2 separate regions of the Homo sapiens genome follow, and region 1 is linked to region 2. The links come from fine-mapping of genetic effects on gene expression. A gene starts in region 2. The other region holds a variant in brackets. All regions are shown on one strand. Distances are between the middles of the regions.

Region 1 (5,372 bases), 180 kb after region 2:
GTCTTGCTGCCTCATCTGTAGCAAGGCAGAATGGAAATTGTGGAAGCTTTATGGCACTGCTGAGAACGGAGCCCCAGTGCACACCAATGGGAAGCCTTACCTTGTTCCAGCAGCCTTGGACTGGTAAGCCATCTTCGCCCTGCAAGGAGAAAGGAAGGCAGAGGGCTCAGACTTCCTGCAATGGTCCACCAAGTGGGCAGGACAGGGGTAACAAGGGCCACACGCATTTTGGCAGCTGATCAGGATGTGGCCCACCCACGCTTGTCTATTTCTTTTCTCTACTACAGGTCAGAACCTCAGAAGGAGGTGGAAACAAATCCGGCTATTTTACCATTGGTTAAAGGTCACATGCAGCTATAGTGCAACGTCAATAGGGGCTGTCCTAGCCCGTGGGACCAGCAAGCAGAGATGTCCTTCCGTGCCACGAAGAAACAGTCTCTGCTGTGGCCCTATGGAGTGCCGGCTGCTCACGGGTAAGCCACTCAGCACAAGGCGGCCTCAGTTTCCTCCTCCATAAAACCTTGGCAAGGACAGTTGCTTGATGTGACCGCTAAGGGCCTTCCCAGCCTTCTCATTCTCTTATTTGTCTCTCTTCCTAAGCACAGGGAGGAGGACATGTAGACAGTCCTTCTTTGATGATTAATCCTGGGGTGGGGTGAGGGGCATGAAGGGACAGGCAACCTCATGAGTATTGCAGGATGGCCCTGACATGCCTTTGGCAAGAAGACAAGGGTTCCTGGCGAAGCCTTAGACCTTGCTGGGAATTTGGGGGTGAAGTGCAGTAAAAACATGGGAATCAACTGCACACCGTCGGTCTCCTTTGTTGGTAGCAACCATGCAGCTCCTTTAGCCTCAAGATGTTCGTGTTCTGCCCTTGGTGATAGAAACTTTCCTGAGTTTTCTTGGGCCCTCATATCCTCTCCTTGCTGGCATACCCTATGGGGAATCTAGAAATCTAGAGACCCAGTGGGGAAGGCGAGGCTGGGCCAAGGGCAAAGGTCTGGTTCTCAGCCCAAGTCTGCTAGACTGGCAGGGCAGACAAGGAGATGGACATGGGGCTTCAGGAGACCCGGAGCAAGTGCTCAGTCCTGAGGGAGCTTGTGGAATGAGAGTCCTCTGCTGCCCTGGTCTGACGTCATCCACCCACGCCAGGGGCTGAAACCTCTCATCACCTGGCATTCAGCAGAAATTGGTCCCAATATGGAGGGCTTAGGAAGTCTGGTTATCTTGTAGTAAAAGTCATGAGCAATAGCTACCCCTGCCCCTCAAGCCCATAATAACACAGAGGAGGAGGCAGAGTGAGAAACAAGGGGAAGACACTTCCCCAGTAAAATTAATAGAAAATTGACACATTGATATGGGATGTTATGGAAGAAAATGCCATTTTACATGGAGAGTCAAATCAGGGTGACCTTCATTTTCCCCTCTGGGTTGGGGAGGGGATTGCAGGGGGAGGAGGTGCATTCCACAGTTTCAGGGTGACCCTGTGCCCCTTCCCCAGCCTGCCACGGTGCGGTATGACACACGTCACATGGATGCCGGGAGGGAGAGGAGCCTCTGTGGGCCAGAGCGGCATTCCCATTGGTGTGTGGATGGTGGCAGGGGGATATGGAGGGCAGGGCAGGCAGAGAATGAAAAGTAATGTATGGTGAGGAACAGAGAGGCCAAGGCAGCTGCTGGCAGAACTAAAGGTGCCCAGATTGTGGGAGGGGATTGTGGCTGAGGGAAGACCTGGCCAGTGCTCAAGGGAGCCCCTGCGGGCCAGAGCGGCATTCCCATTGGTGCGTGGATGGTGGAAGTCCTGGTTGAGAAAGGTGGCTGTGCAGTCTGCAAGCGCAGGGTTTGGCAGGACCAGCAGGGACAGGAAGCATGCTACCCGCCTGCTTGCTCTGCACTCTCCTTTTGTTGCCTATGCTCCTCCTAAAAAGTCCCTACTGCCCTTCAAGGGGCTCTACGACCACCTTTCAGGGTCACACAGCATAATTTCTTGTATCTTTTTCTCTTTTGTTCAAAGAGAATTCCTGTGTGACCCCAGGGCGGGGATGTGAGACCCCAAATTCTCTTATTACTGGTATGATAAAATAGCTCTTGAACTCCAAACCTATTGGGGAAATTTGGGGAGAGCTGTAACCCCTTGAGCCTTGGAGTGAAGTGTTCCCTTCAGCTTCTTTTGCAGTAAGAGGATCAGCGTGGAGGCCTAGACTGTCCATGCCTAGAGAGGGACTGGGCAGGCGGGAATAAACTGCTACCACTTCGCCTGGGACGTGCTTGGAAGAGAGGTCCTTAGCTGTCTCCCTGCCTCCTCCTTAACTACATTCTTGACCTTTCCGTCTCTCCCAGACTCTTCAGTAAGAAGCCATCTGATCATGAAAGAAAGGGACGAGGAAGGGTCTGGTAATGTCTTTGGAGATTTAAGCAAGAAGGACAAACCCTTTAGGATCCGAAAACCTAATCCTGGACCATCCCCTAGTTCTGATGGTGTCACCTGGGCAGCGACCCACGATCCAACCTGGAAGAATAGGCAGGTGGCCCCTCCTCCAGCTCACTTCTAGAGCTTCTCAGTCTACTCTGTAATCATGCCCTTCTGTCCCCCAAATCATGTGATGGAGGAGCAGGGGATACAGGGCTGATCAGGCATCTCATTCACATGTTTCGCTAGGTGCTCAGCCAGTGATTCTGAACTAACTTCACTGCCTGAAGGAAAAGAAGTGAGTCATGGTTCTGAAAACCAGTCCAGAGAATCCACTTTCCTAGCTGGTATCTGGTGGCAGCTTTGTCTAGAATCAGCTTGGAGATGAGTATCAGAGGCAGCCAAAACCAACTTCAGGGTGGGAGAGCTGGCTGGCATCAAGTGGCTGTGCTTTAGAGGTAGCTGCAGCAGGAAGCCAGGAAACATCCCAGTAAACTTTGCATGCAAGAGGGTGGCATGACTGGGAGCCCCCAGAGTACTAGCCTAGGCGGGGTGACCCTTGGC[A/G]TTTACAGAATGAAGAAGTGGGAAGTGGAGCCTGGGGGGGATGGAGGAGGAGTGTGGAGGGTGGCTGGGGAGAAACCCAGTATGAATCACACACATGGGGAAGCCCAAATCGGCCATGCAGGCAAGCAAGGGCAATGCCATACCAATGGGCATGGGGCATCCAGTCCGTCCAGCCCTGGTAACCCCGGCTCCCCTTTCTCTCCTTTAAAACCTCGGTGTCCCTGTTCACAAAACCAACCACGATGATTATTCAGGTCAAGGCTGGCCAGCTCCAACCATGGAATAGAGAGGCCCAGTCCTACCCTGGCCAGGATGCAGGACCCTTGAGGCATCTACAAACAGGGGCTAAATCCCAGGTGATCCCCCATCTCCCAAATCCAGCTTTTGTGCTCTCTTTGTGCTCTGGAGAGTTCAGCTTTGCACACATACAACCTGCCCCCTCTCCGTTGATCCTCCTCTCTCTACAGACTCACTTAGTGTAAACACAGACAAACTTCAACTTTAGTGCATCATAATTTTTAGAACCTTCAAATGGATTCAAAGGCACTTGAGAAACCCAGCAGAAGTGCCTCATCATTAATTGCTGGCTCTTTTGAGAAGGCTTCCCATGGGGTGTCTGTCTGACTACCAGTTCTGGTCTGCAGCTTTAAAGGTTTCAGCTGGATGGCTGGTGAGTGTTGGGAGGCTGTGCATTAGAAGCCCCTCATCTGGCCTTGTTCTGCCCAGTTTTGAGCATCAGTGGCCCTGAGGAGACGCTAACTCTGGTGTCCTGCATCCTGATCAAGTGAGGATTCAGACAGCTTGAACTACTGGCCCACAGAGGTGGCCATGAAACGAAGAAGGCAAATCCGTGGCTCACAAATGCTACACTGGCTTCCAAAGCCATCCTGGAGCTAAGAGCTGAGGCCTTCCCTGAAAATCCCTTTCCTAGTGGTTTCCTCACTTCCACACATCGATTGCTCTGTATCTTCAAAGGAAAAGGATTCAAAGGCAAGGGATTTAGCCAGAATTACTTGCAGCTGTGGTTACAAAGCAAATCCAACAGCGGGCAGAATTTCACCAGTCAAATGAACAGAGAGATTTTGGTAGCATCCGTGTAGACATTTGGTTCTCATCTTAGTTTATTTGCCTTCTTTGTTTCCAACTTACAAACCTCAAGAACAAAAACCAGAACAATGCAAGTGATAAACAAAAACATACCAATGGGCAGGGGGCATCTAATCCAGGCGCTCCTTGGTCTCCCTTATCCCCTTTAGGCCCTCTAGAGCCTTTCTTCCCCCTCTCCCCCTGTAAATAATGGTTTAGTCCGAGAAAAAAACATCAAAACTTTAAGATCATTCATGTGTTAAGGTTGAAGACAGAAAAAGAAAAATAAAATTAAAAAGGGAAAAAGAGATGCTTTAAATTAGGATATTCTCCCCAGTAGGATTTGGAGTCAATACCCACCTCCTCCCCACCCCCCAGGAACCTGAGAATTTGGCTAAGGTGGGTGGGAGGGGGAGGGGAGGACAGGCAGAGGGCTCAGAGCTGCAGGTGCAGGGAACCACAGACTGAAGATTTTGGTGGCCGGTTTTGCTAATACTAAGCCCAGCGTGGGTCTGTGCTGAACACAGTGGCTAGGGACCAACTTCCTTCTCTTTGAGTCTGTTTTTGAAAGGCTTTGGGGTGAAAACTTTTTTTTTCCCCAATTAATGTTTATCCTTTTGACATTCTATTAGGAGGCAAGGTGATTTTGCTTGGAGCCCTGGGATGTGTGTGAACATAGCATGTATGAGTGTATGCATATATGTGCTTGTGCACATGTGTGTATATGTATGTATGAGTATACAGGTATGTGCTTGTGTATATGTGTGTGTGTGCCCACGTTTGAGTGTGTGTGGGTATGTGCTTGGGCACGTGAACACATGTGTGTGCCTTTATTATGCATGTGTGTCCATGTGCACATATGTATGTGTGTGTCCAGAGCTCACGGATGGCCCCTTGTGCTCAGCTGGCTTCTCCTGTTCTATCTGTGTCTCTGGTTCATCCTGGTCTGAAGTCAGACCGTTATTTGTATATGAATATGTTGGTTTAAGGAATTCATTTGTTTCTGAAAAGCTACAGTAAACATCATTTTTCTAAATTGAATCCTATATTGTATGTGTCAGAGTCTATTTAAAGAAGGGCTGTGGGGAATTCTTTTTAAAAGTGAAGCATCACTTCTGTAATGAATTTGCATTTGCATTTTTATATGTGTTTCCTAAAAAGGGGGCTCAGTATGCCCCTAGGGAGTCTTCCTGGGAGCTCCCCTCCTCTATGGAAGGGGGATTATCTAACGCTTGGGGACTTCAACTGTGTCACTCCAGGGTGACACTGAATGCTGGGCAGCGTATTAGAACAAAGGCTTGCAGTCAGAGTT
Region 2 (5,372 bases):
TGAAGCTTACAAATTTCGTTGGAACTACGTATGGAAAAGGAGAACATTTACCAGGCTCTTCAGATCTAAGAGTTGCCTGTTCTTCGAGTGGGCATACTGCCTCTGTTTCTCTGGGCTCCTGAGATGACCCAGTACCTTGGAGCTCCTCCAGCCCTGGGAGCCAGCAGAAAAGCCACCTGTTGTCTGTAAGGAAGTACCCACAGGCCTGGCTGAGCTCATTACAGCAGAGAGCCAGCAACGCTTCCTCCTCTTAGATTCCGTCATGTTAGACAATCTGCCTGCTCTCCCCACTAACCGTCAAAGTTCCATGGAATGAACTTGCCACTTTTTCAGGATCCTAACCACCGCACTTTCCTGCTACCTCTGGCACTTGGAATTTCAGAGACAAAACCCCTTTTTTAGGCAGCGAGCCCTGATTTTCAGTTCCAAAGCTATGGGCACTGCTGAGTGGGACCAGAGGAGTGGTGTGCAGTGAGCTACCTGGAGGGGTTGCATGAGACCATGTCCCCTCTCCTGGATGGAGGTGTCTTCTGGTTGCCAAGAAAGTATTGAGTGATAATCAGAAAAATTCCTTGATTTTCATGGTTTGTTGCTTTGTAGCAGGTCTTAAGGAAAAAAAAAAAGTTTTTCATGGTTTGGGACAGGTCCTTAGAGATGGGCCACACCAGCCCTGGCACACCTGAGCCCAGTGTTGGGCCACCTCACACCTCTCTCGCCTCTCTTCCAGCTTTATCTTTGTCCTGCTCTTTCTGGAGTCCTTTCCTTGCATCCTGCCAGCTGGCATCCCCTTCATCCTTGCACGCCTACCTTCTACACAAAGCCTTCCATGACCATCCCAAGCCTCAGGGCTGATTCCGTGCAGTGGGCAGGCTGTAGCCTCTCTGTTCACCTCTCTGTGTCACATCTTACTGGGTACATGCCCAGTAAATTCCCCACAACTGAGATTCTGCTTTGCCTGAGCAGTGCCCTCTGGCTCCTTAGGGATGATGCTTGCTGAGGGGTTTCCTGGCTTTAAGGTCATGGTTCAGGCTGGGCTCAGTGGCTCACACCTGTAATCCCAGCACTTTGGGAGGCCGAGGTGGGCAGATCACTTGAGGCCAGGAGTTTGAGACTAGCCTGGCCAACATGGTGAAACCCCGTTTCTACTATAGCCGGGTGTGGTGGCAGGTGCCTGTAATTCCAGCTGCTTGGGAGGCTGAGGCATGAGAATCGCTTGAGCCTGGAAGGTGGAGGCTTCAGTGAGCCGAGAGCATGCCACTGCACTCCAGCCTAAGCGACAGAGCCAGATTCGTCCCCCTACCCCCCAAAAAGGGGTCATGGTTCAGACCTCCATTGTAGGCCCACCCCCTTGCTTTACTAGCTGAGGGACCTTGCCTAAATTCTTTAGCCTCTAGGAGCCTAAATTTCCTTATCTGCAAAATGGAGATTAATAAAACTTACCTTGCAGGACCTTTGTGAAAAAAACAAAAACAAACAAAAAAACTTGAGAAGTCATTCAAAGCACTTAGTTCGTGATCAATAAATATTAGCTTATTGTTTTTCTAAGACGATGAGTAGGATTTTTCATCAAAAATAAATCATTCTGGTTGCCTTGGGCAAAATAATCTGCAATATAAAATATCTATAATAAATGGCTGCTGTGTATTCATTGCTACTGTGTGCCAGGCACCATGTTAAAACACTTTATAAAAATGATCTCATTGAGGCCTTTCCACAACTCTTTTTTTCTTTTTTTAGAGATGGAGTTTCGCTCTTGTTGCCCAGGCTGGAGTGCAATGGCATGACCTCCGCTCACTGCAACCTCTGCCTTCCTGGTTCAAGTGAATCTCCTGCCTCAGCCTCCTGAGTAGTTGGGACTACAGGCATGTGCCACCATGCCAGGCTAATTTTTTGTAGAGACAGTGTTTTACCATGTTTGCCAGGCTGGTCTCGAACTCCTGACCTCAGGTGATCCACCCACCTCGGCCTCCCAAAGTGCTCGGATTACAGACGTGAGCCACCGTGCCTGGCCCTTATCCACAACTCTTAAAGTAGGTGCTAATATTTGCAGTAAGTAGATGGAGATGGCTTATCTTTCGCTGAGTTAGCTTGGTCTGATTTGAGCTGGCAATACACTGCCTTCCAGGTCATTGTCCTGCCTGTGGGTCTTTGCACATCCAGACCACACTTCCTTCCTCTTTACCTAAATCTACCTCTTTCTCATCCTTGGAGAGAAGTATTTGCACCCTTCCTTTGCCCTCAGTCTTTCTTTTTTATTTTTTCATTTCATTTCATTTATTATTATTATTATTATTATTTTTTTTTTGAGACAGAATCTCACAGTCACCTAGGCTGGAGTGCAGTGGAATGATCATGGTTCACTGTAGCCTCAAACTCCTGGGCTCAAGCAATCCTCCCACCTCAGCTTCCCGAGAAGCTGGGACTACAGGTGTGCACCAACAAGCCCGGCTAATTTTTGTAGGTCTCGCTATGTTGCCCAGGCTGGTCTCCAACTCCTGGGCTCAAACGATCCTCCCGCCTTGGCCTCCCTAAGTGCTGGGACTGTAGGCATGAGCCACCGTGCCTGGCCATGCCCAATCTTTCTTACTGCAGTTGGTGATACATGGTTTTTGTTTTCTCTATACATGTATTTTTTGGTGGTGTGTTTAATATCTGTCTTTTCCCAGACTGTCGCCTCCGTGAAAGCAGGAACCTTGTCAGTTTTCTCTCCAAGTTATCCCTCCAACGCCTAGCACAGTGCCTGGCAAATGTAGGAGCTCAACAGGGTTTGCGGAATTATTATGTGTATGTCTGAAGGAAGGATGTTGGCAGTGCGCCCAACGTGTGAGGGGAACCCCACTCTCCAAGGTTCCAGTGGCTTTAAAGGTGTCCTCGAGAAAATCAGAGGAACAGGGGGATGCTTGTTTTCCTTCCTTCCTTCTCTCTCTCTCTCTCTCTCTCTCTCTCTCTCTCTCTCTCTCTCTCTCTCTCTCTCTCTTTTTTGCTTTAAAGTATGCTGAAAGGACACTTTAAACCAAGTCTGAATGGCTCGGCAGGACTGGGGCGCGGGTGCTGGCAGGAGCCGGAGAGGCGACATCTGGCCATGGGAGCATTTGTTTCAAAGTTCAAGGCCGTTCGCTCAGGGTCAAGGTTAGTCCGGCGGGCCGTTCGGAGACCAGCCCCAGCGTGCCAGGACCGTTTCCGGGGCCTGGCCGGGGCGTTGCCGCGGGGTCGGGGACCAGCACGAGTGCTGAGTCACGCCCCGCCCGGGAGCGCCTCGGGTCAGTAACTCGGGAAGACGACCAAGCGGGAGCGGGAGCGGGAGCGGGAGCCGGAGCGAGAGCGCGCGGGCGCGGCCGACAGGTGAGATCGCGCCGCCAGGCGGGCTCTCGAGACCCCGGGCGCCCCGGGCGGGACCGGGACCCGGAAGAGGGGCGAGCGGATTAGAGGCCTGGCTCACGCCGCGTCTGGCGTGGGGAGGTCGGTGCGCGCAGTTGTGGCGCTGCGAGGAGAGGGATACTCGACTCAGGCCCGCCCCTCTCTGTCTCCCCCAAAAAACGCAACAGGGAGATGTGCTCCTGGCCGAGGGCAAAGAAAACTCCACCCTCCTGGTTTGGCCCCTAAATCCCTGCTAAGTTTTCCTAAGGAAGATGGGCTTAGGCCGGGAAGGGCGAACCGGGGAAGAGGGAACACGGGGCGGGTGTAACCCGGATCTTGCGAGGACCGTCCGAGGGTCCGCTGGGTAGAAGCGGCCGGTCCGGACAGAAGCAGGTGTGAGAGGAAAGGGAGAAACCTCAGTCTCTAAGAGGAAAGAAACTGGAGTCAACCCAGTGCCCATAGGCTCGGGGGAGCTGGGGGGTGCAGCACTAGGAAGTCTGCTTCTCCCTTCCCGAAGCCCTGGGTGCTGCAGGGACAAAGACCAGCGGTGAGTAAACTAACTCTGATGGGACGCGTGCAGTCCACCTGGAACTGAATTAGTGGCCTATATTGGGGCTCTCCTTCCAACACCACCTGATCAACACACCCTACCTTTCCCTACAAGGAGAGTCTTTTTGACCCTGGAATTTAAGGTGAGGATGGGGAGTGGTGAGGTCTCTTGGGGGCTGATGATCCTGTAGGAGGACAGGCATAGGGCAGAGAGTCAGATATAGTTTGGGATGGGACTTGCAGGTTTCTGGACTGTGCACCTGTGTTCAAAAGCCTGTATCAGGTTCCAGTGTGCGTGCATGCACCTGCCAGAGAGCCCCGGGATCTCAGATCACACCTGCCCTCACCCCAGCACCTAGAGAGGAGTTCTCCAAGGAGCACAGTGTGTCACCAAGAAGAGGGCACTGAGCCCCAGCCAGGGTGGGCTGGGCAGGCTTAGCACTACCTAGCCCAGAAGTGATGGGCTGGGCAGGCCGGTGGACTCCAGGGCCAGCCTGACTTTTGTCTGGTGGCCAAATGAAGCCAGCGTCCAGGTACAGGTGGTGGGCAGACCATGGGGACCACAAAACTGGCTCTGAGGAGGATGGACAAATTGCTTGGCCTAGGTTTTCTGTGCGGGAGTGAATATGACATCCAGATGAACCTGTCTGCCCCAGAGCTGCCCTCCCCTGGGGATAAAAGGAGGCTGCCTCCCTTAGACTTTGAGTCCCTTTTCAGAAACTGGTCTTTTGGGGGTTCTGTTCTTCAAGTAGTCCCTGAGGGGCTGGCCATGGAGTGTCCCAGGAAGGGAGGCCGCCCAACCGTCTCCATCCTGCTGTGTCCCGCAGGTGGAGGAAACCTCCATGGTGCTGTGAGTCGTGCTGTAGTGGCCTTCTTATCCGGGACGGCCACTCTGGGAATGTGGCTCTCCAGAGGCTGATGTTGAAACCTACCCTTTGTGTGAGCCATGACGACTCAAAAAGCATCGTGTTTTATTTGTAATATTTGTGAAGCAATACTGGAGCAACTCTGGGATGACATTCTTGCTTTGATCAGAGCCCACACGGTTCCTGCTGTGTGTCTTCTGAGGCACAACCTCTGAACAGCTTTGGCATAAATGTAACTTCCTGGTTTTTCAGTAGTCCTATGGGCTGCTTATTGTGGAATAATACCCTTGAGATCAGGGTGGATGCTCTTGGCAGAGAAAACAGGATTGACTGAGCAAATTTTTGTGTAAATCAGATTGTGTGTGTGTGTGTCTGTGTGTATGTGTGTTGTGGCAGGGAGCAAAGGTAAAGTTACTGAGGGGTTCCTGGACAATCAGGGTTTGTTCCGCTCTCTTAGGCCTTCTTTTAAGCTAACATTCTTGAACCTAGACAGACATAGTTAAGATTCTCTGTGATTCCCACTGGGGCTTTGGTGTTCAGTTCAAAATCAGATGGTGGATTTAGCAGTTCCTCAAAAAGTTAAACTTCAAGTTACCATAT

Which allele goes with the higher level. Alleles are on the strand shown, and positions count from the first base shown. SD is a standard deviation of normalised expression in the study named.
For the expression in macrophages of the gene that starts at base 3,251 in region 2, A is the high allele of the variant in region 1 and G is the other (small effect, 0.39 SD a copy in Nedelec 2016).

Evidence for each region. PIP is the estimated chance that this variant, and not a neighbour inherited with it, causes the effect.
Region 1: its variant is fine-mapped to the expression of AIFM2 in macrophages (Nedelec 2016, PIP 0.95).

What each region holds. Positions count from the first base shown.
Region 1 is chr10:69,951,771-69,957,142 of GRCh38, reverse strand. COL13A1 (collagen type XIII alpha 1 chain) reads right to left here. Exons shown (of 41, transcript NM_001368882.1): 39 at 4,175-4,261; 40 at 101-139. It overlaps LOC107984242 (a long non-coding RNA gene), which reads left to right. Exons shown (of 4, transcript XR_007062181.1): 3 at 288-473; 4 at 2,165-2,248. Among named protein-coding and RNA genes, the nearest start is that of LINC02636, 55 kb to the left of the region's middle. RefSeq lists a silencer at 255-324. The variant A/G (reference allele first, on the strand shown) is at 2,975.
Region 2 is chr10:70,130,704-70,136,075 of GRCh38, reverse strand. AIFM2 (AIF family member 2) reads left to right here and starts at 3,251. Exons shown (of 9, transcript NM_032797.6): 1 at 3,251-3,342. RefSeq lists silencers at 3,077-3,396, 3,229-3,438 and an enhancer at 2,960-3,460.